2 linked regions of the Homo sapiens genome follow. The protein of the gene in region 1 purifies or fractionates together with the protein of each later gene. This does not show direct contact. Each region holds a gene or a part of one and is shown in the gene's direction. Other genes may lie near its edges.

Region 1 (3,500 bases):
TGATTCTGCGGAGAGTTTTGTGTCTTCTGGTACAGCTAGGCCTTTGGCTTGTCTCCTCCACTTAGCAGCCCTTTCATGTGATTACACAACAAAAGTTGAGAGAGTGAAGCCTGTGTGCCAGCATAGGAATTAGGTGCTGGAGATCACACTGAAGGCACATGGTTCCTGCCTTCCCTGATGCCATCTGTGCCATCTGTGTTACTGCAGCCATGGTGGAGTCTTTTCAGTAGCAAACTCTAGAACTTTTCTGCCTGGAGAGTCCACATTCATTGCTCTTAAAATTTGAGAGCAGCCTCTCTTTCTAGATGGTAGACTTGAGTTCTCTACAGGATAGCCTTTTAGACTAAGAGAACCAGATCTTTCTTGACCCTTCATATTTTGAAAGCTGCTAGTCCTACTCTTAAGTCTCATTCTCATTTTCCCATTTTGGAGTTCCAGCTCTGTCCCTCACAAGCAGTGTAAGTGTCAGCAAGTGAGTTAACATCTTTGGGCCTTAGTTTATTTGTGAAATAGGGATGACTATGATTCCCACCTCATGAGTTAGGAGGATTAAATGAGATCATTCCTATTAGCACAGTATCTGCCACGTAGTAAACAATAAATGGAATAAAACGATTGCATTTTCCACATGTCTTGGAGAGCACTGGAGGCCAGCTCCTCTTCACCCTTTGCCCAGACTTGAGCATCTCAGAGAGAGGAGCCACCTTTCATTGTATTCATCTCTGTGTCTACAGCCAGCCCCTGCCTGGTGAATAGTAGATGCTTAATAGTATTGATTTATGACCTGAAGATGGTGATGGTGATGATGATGTAACCTGTCTGCCAGGATTAAGGAGGGTAAAATAAGAAAATGTATGTGAAACTACACTTTTGTGAATGGAAAAACAACACTGTGTACGTCCCTCCACTAAGGTATTTATCACAGTGTACTGTTCTTTGTTTGCCTATCTTTTCCACTCATAGTCCATGTGCTTCTCCAAAGTGGAGACTACATCTTATCTCTAGTCCTGCTCCAGCCCCTGTCTGATAGCCTACACAAAGTAGGCACTCAGGTAGTTTAATTGAATGCAAATGGCATACAAAGGCAAAGAATTGTAAAGCTATTATTAGGATAGGGAAAGAGGGCTGGTAAATACGACTGGTCCTTCCTTCCTTCCTGGTGCTACTTTTACACAAAACTGTTTCTGAAATAAACCTCTTCCTAGGGGAATGATGAAATTGGCTGAGAGAAAAGGTCAGGGTCAGGAATAACAGTTTCATTATCTGAGCAACTGGACATAGAGGCTGGCACTTGGGCACATTGTCACAAATCTTTGTGTTGGGATTAATGCCACTAACCTGTAGTGTTGGGGTTCCATCTCTGATCATTATCAGCTAAAAATCTTCAAAATGTTTGTCATGCTTCAGGTGCCCTGGCTGCAGAGTTGTGCCAACTTGGTGCAGATTGGGGCACCTCTCCCACTACTGGGCTGTTTGGGCCAGTATTTTGAGGTTCTGGGAAGTATGGAAGTACTGGCTGGGCAATATGGGATGGTAAGAAGTACCTCAGTGAGGTCCTTGCTGCTCTAATTTCTCAGAGAGTCTTTTCTCAGAAGCTTCTCTTTTGCATCCTCAGTAGCTCAAGTGAATATGCCAGTGTGTAGGCTCATTGTTAATAACAGCTCCTCATGTTGTGGAGGAAGGGCCCCTGCAAAGTCACGTTTTGAGACTGGTGCTTGAAACCACCTCTTCTTGGTCTTGGGGAGAAGGCTTGGCTGATGAGCTAGCATTATCAGAGATATGTTTATAATAGGCCCAATTTGATGTGTCCTGAGCCTTGGGTGTAGGCACCCTGGGAATTTCAGGGGCCTACCCCCCTCCTTTTTTTTTTTTTTGCGTGGATCCGAGTCTGGCTTGTTCTTCCTCTCTGGGAGCATGGCACTGAGTTTCAGCACGTAGTTGGCCCCATTTCCCTATGGGTGAGGAAGCTAACATCAGGAAAGTTTGAATATTGAGCTACAGTATTTGCTGTTATTTGCTGCAATGCGGAAACCCAAAGGCCAAGTTTCCAGAGAGTCTGCTGGGGATGTTGACTTGGTGCTGGTCAGAGTGGAAGCTGAAGCACATACTATTTTATAATAAATACTAATGAAATCCTAGATCTATAATAGCATTTCGGATATCTAAAACAAACCATGTGCTTGTAAAAAAGTGGAAAGAGATCAACTTTAAGCCATAAATTCTTGGTAATAGAGGGTTTTTTTCTATTAATGTTTGATAGATATTTTTATTTCCAGAGGAATGTCAACTCCTAATTTCATAATGTATCATGGGCTTAAGAAAATTGAATTTAATAAAAAGCCAAAGATGAATGGCATCCTTAAAGGTCCCAACACTTGTCTTTATTAGCAGGACAAACTGTAGGTCTCCAAACACTGCTGCTCTCCAAATGAAAGTTTAAATGAAAAGTACAGTTGTGTCACAGGTTAAATTTCATTGTGGGCCCAGCTAACATTGTTAGTGAGGAGCTGGCTGTATTTGTTTCCTTAGACACCAGGGCAGCCATACTCACCAGGCTATAGAGCTCTTTCTGTTGAGGAAGTGTTTCTTCTACTTAGGGGAAGAGGAAGGACACATCGGAAAAATCAGGAGTCAGATGAGCCTGATTCATGGGCAACACCTCAGAGTTGGCTCTTGGAATCCTGGATACCTGATTTTGCAGGGGGACCAATGTGTATTTTTTTGGTGTGTGTTCGATTTTGTTATTCAGTTCCAAACCCCCATTTACTCTGTATGTAATGCTTCTTGGGGAACAGAAGGTCCAGGGAATTGGGAAATGAGTGTCCCCCTCTCTTCACCTTGGAAGGAGAGGTATTACCTGGTCTAAGCAGCAGTCTGGGCCTCCCTTCTCTCCCCTCTGCCTCAGCCTTGCAGCCATTTTGCCCTTTCTATCTCTGGGAATAAGCTCCTGTCAGCTTCCTCATCTTTGGAGATCAGCCCACGGAGACAAGGCAACCACAATCTTTGAATCTCTCTGGCATGAAGTCTGACTGACTTGATTTGGTTTTCGGTCCTGATGTGTTGGATTGAAATAGATGCTTTAAAAACAAGCCCAATATTAGTGGGTATGTTTTGCCGGGAGGATACCTGGCTTTCCTGGGACATCAAGGAGATTGACCATTTCTCCTTGTGTTTTCCCACCCATCAATTTCCTAAGTGCAGTCAGGTGTCATCCGTTTCGTGTTGCTTCTCCAGGCTGTCTCTGGAGAGAACCACTTTACCTTGATTTTAATGATACTGGAAAGGTCTTCTCCAGAATGAAGGACCTGGGGAAGGGGTGCTGCTGGAGCTGACTATTAGGGTCACTGAATAGGCAGAGCCCCCTTCCTTTCTCTCTGCAGTGGAGGCCCTTTCCACATGCTAATTTTACTCAGAGAATTTTGCTTTTATTTATTTTTTTTATTATTTCCTATTTGTCTCTTCCAGATGTTTTCAGGGCAGTTTTTTTTTGTGTTGTAAAC
Region 2 (3,500 bases), on another chromosome or scaffold:
ATTGCTAACTGAATTAGTTTTTTACTTTGAAGATGTTTTAAAGCTTGTAAATACTTGAGGATTTTGGACACAAGCTCCGCATAGTTCTATAGTATATGTGCTTGGGTTTAAAGTTGTATTGCTTATTTATTATTTCCAATGGTCTTGTCTGAAGGGTTGCATAATTTAAGCAACCTTTGAAACTGTATACATACTTTGTACTTATATAAAAATTTATTATAATCCAGTAATTCTGGGGAAAACAAACTTAAAACTTACATTTTTTAATTTTATATTTTCACAAGTTGGGAAGAATTTAATATTTTGTCTTAATTGCAATATTTTAATTATGAGGTTATAGAAAGATTTAAAGTAAAGCTCATATCTTCTGATGGAATAACCAACTGAAATGAAAACTAGAAAAAGATGTTTTGTCATGTTAACATAATGTAGTACACATTCATTGAGATTTAATTATGATTTTAAATATGTATATTTAATATATATGTTTTTTCATTTTATATGAAAATAACAGCAACTTTTTTGTGTTTGTTTGTTTTTTTCTTAGATAAGCCCCAAAAGTGATGTTTGGTCCTTAGGATGTATTTTGTACTATATGACTTACGGGAAAACACCATTTCAGCAGATAATTAATCAGATTTCTAAATTACATGCCATAATTGATCCTAATCATGAAATTGAATTTCCCGATATTCCAGAGAAAGATCTTCAAGATGTGTTAAAGGTAATATTAATTTCATGTAACTAATTATTTACTTAAAAGAAATAGTTGAAATAATTGGAATTATGTAACTGGCTTAGATATAACTGTTCTATTCAAAAGAATTGCTAACTGAATTAGTTTTTTTACTTTGAAGATGTTTTAAAGCTTGTAAATACTTGGGGATTTTGCAAAAGTGCCTTGGGAGAAATAATCTTGTCATAATACTTTAGTGGGATATCTAAAAAGTAACTTTTATAATATAATGTAATCTGGAAAAATACTTTATCAATATCATATATGAAAACCTGCTTTGTTTTTCTTTTAAAATATCTTTGTTTTAATAGTGTTGTTTAAAAAGGGACCCAAAACAGAGGATATCCATTCCTGAGCTCCTGGCTCATCCATATGTTCAAATTCAAACTCATCCAGGTACTACTTCTTTAAAAATTTGTTTATTACTAGATTGGTAGTATAAACAGTCTGTTACCTATTAATATAACAAAGACAGAATCTAAATTGGCTACCCTTTGTCAGCCTGCCTTTTTCCTTAAGGAAGTTCCATTATTATAAATAGTAAAGTAAATAAACTTTTTTTTCTTTACTTCTGGTATTTATTTTTACTTATTCCAGATAACGGGTTATAATCAGTGATAAATTATAAGAATATCACTTTGTGCTATTAAACAAAATGTGTATTTACAATGGACTTATATTTTTCTTACTGGTACTAGTGTATTATTGATTTATTTTATAGTTAACCAAATGGCCAAGGGAACCACTGAAGAAATGAAATATGTTCTGGGCCAACTTGTTGGTCTGAATTCTCCTAACTCCATTTTGAAAGCTGCTAAAGTAAGTATGTCTATTCTTTACATTAATTTTTACTGTTTTATATAGTGAATTCGACACTTAAGGAAACAGGTAGTCTGAAGAAAAGTTGGTCCAATCATCAGATCAGTTATGAAACATGTTTCTACATTTAGATACTTAACATGTGCATTTTGACAAATATCGATTTACTTGATTTATATTCTTCTTCTGCATACAGTACAGTTCAAAGTAGATCATCACATAAGGTGCATTCAAAAGATTGCTGTCACGTCTCAACTGGAATACATTTAATATAGGAATATAGTGTGTCTTTTAATTCAGCACCATTATTAATACAGCTTTTGAATTCATTCCTTTTAGCCAGTTTTTTCCTTAGAGACATTACATGTAATGGCTTTTTTGAAGCTGTACACAGCAATCAACACAATTCTCAAAGCACAAGTCTCAAGCTTTTTAGCTTCCCAATGTCCATTTATATCTATACCATGATTTTTCAAACACCTAGTTATTTCTAGAACCCTGTGAATGCTTATTGACCAACTGATTTAGCCAACAAGCAGTTACTAATTATGTATTTCAGTTACAACATTATCATAAAATTATGGGAACCTAAACTATCAATACTCGTAGCTCTCTGGATACATATAAAATCCATCTAAGTTGCCAAGAACTTGAATACATTTTTTGAAGGAATTTACTATATATTCACTATATTTGCATTTATATGATATGAGGTACCTGTTTTCTTAAATTTTCTCAAATGCTAATGGCTAAATCAATGGATTTAGTAATTAAAAGTGGACCAAATTTGTTTTGTAATTGCTCTGTATTTTGTATCTCCATGTTTTAAGTTTATACTAATATATTATTCAAAGCCTCTTATAGCTATAGTTGAGGTGGATTATTTTTATAACTGAAGTTGTATGTTCCTTGAGGGCAAAGATGTCTGCCATCTTCATAAGTTAGATGTTAGCTGAGTCTTAAATCATTTTTAAATACATGGATTTTAATATATATCTAATTATTATATTTATATAATTTGTAATGTCTTCTATTTATTAGCTTATTATCATCTGAGAATATAAAGTTTCCTAATAAATATATTTTGTATAGGAATTTACCTAAGACTGGCTTTATTTAAGAAAAAGTAAAGAGATAAAGAAGGCCTTGAAGGCTCATATGTATGTTTATTAGTAGCTCTGTTATATTTCTCTCATAGAAAGATTGAGTTATATCTCATGATAGGTAATGCTTAAGGCCAAGCTTCGTGTTTAAAATTCTTTATTATCTCTAATAGTTTATAAAATAATTTCCCAACTGTAAGAACAAGAGAGAAATAAATGTATTATATTTAGAATACATCAAAATACATCTACTGATGTGACAGTACATTTAACTAAAAAATTGCAAAACAGATTTGTGTTTTTTAATTTCAGACTTTATATGAACACTATAGTGGTGGTGAAAGTCATAATTCTTCATCCTCCAAGACTTTTGAAAAAAAAAGGGGAAAAAAATGATTTGCAGTTATTCGTAATGTCAGATACCACCTATAAAATATATTGGACTGTTATACTCTTGAATCCCTGTGGAAATCTACATTTGAAGACAACATCACTCTGAAGTGTTATCAGCAAAAAAAATTCAGTAGATTATCTTTAAAAGAAAACTGTAAAAATAGCAACCACTTATGGCACTGTATATATTGTAGACTTGTTTTCTCTGTTTTATGCTCTTGTGTAATCTACTTGACATCATTTTACTCTTGGAATAGTGGGTGGATAGCAAGTATATTCTAAAAAACTTTGTAAATAAAGTTTTGTGGCTAAAATGACACTAACATTTCAAAGTTGTAAGGTTGTTTTCTTTAAGCAAATGTATTGTTGGCATGGCAGCAAAATTCTTAATTAGTAAAAAGTAGATTAGGGAAGATGTGAGACTAGACCTTAGTAAATGAACTTTGAAA

What was found.
Region 2: the proteins of ERI3 (region 1) and TTK fractionate together in Homo sapiens (co-fractionation; one large-scale study listed by BioGRID). This does not show direct contact.

Annotation. Positions count from the first base shown.
Region 1 is NC_000001.11:44,320,758-44,324,257, reverse strand, and holds part of ERI3 (ERI1 exoribonuclease 3), read left to right. Parts: intron 1-3,500.
Region 2 is NC_000006.12:80,039,149-80,042,648, forward strand, and holds the end of TTK (dual specificity protein kinase TTK), read left to right. Parts: intron 1-547; coding exon 548-724; intron 725-1,047; coding exon 1,048-1,132; intron 1,133-1,457; coding exon 1,458-1,555; intron 1,556-2,970; coding exon 2,971-3,054; 3' UTR 3,055-3,379; downstream 3,380-3,500.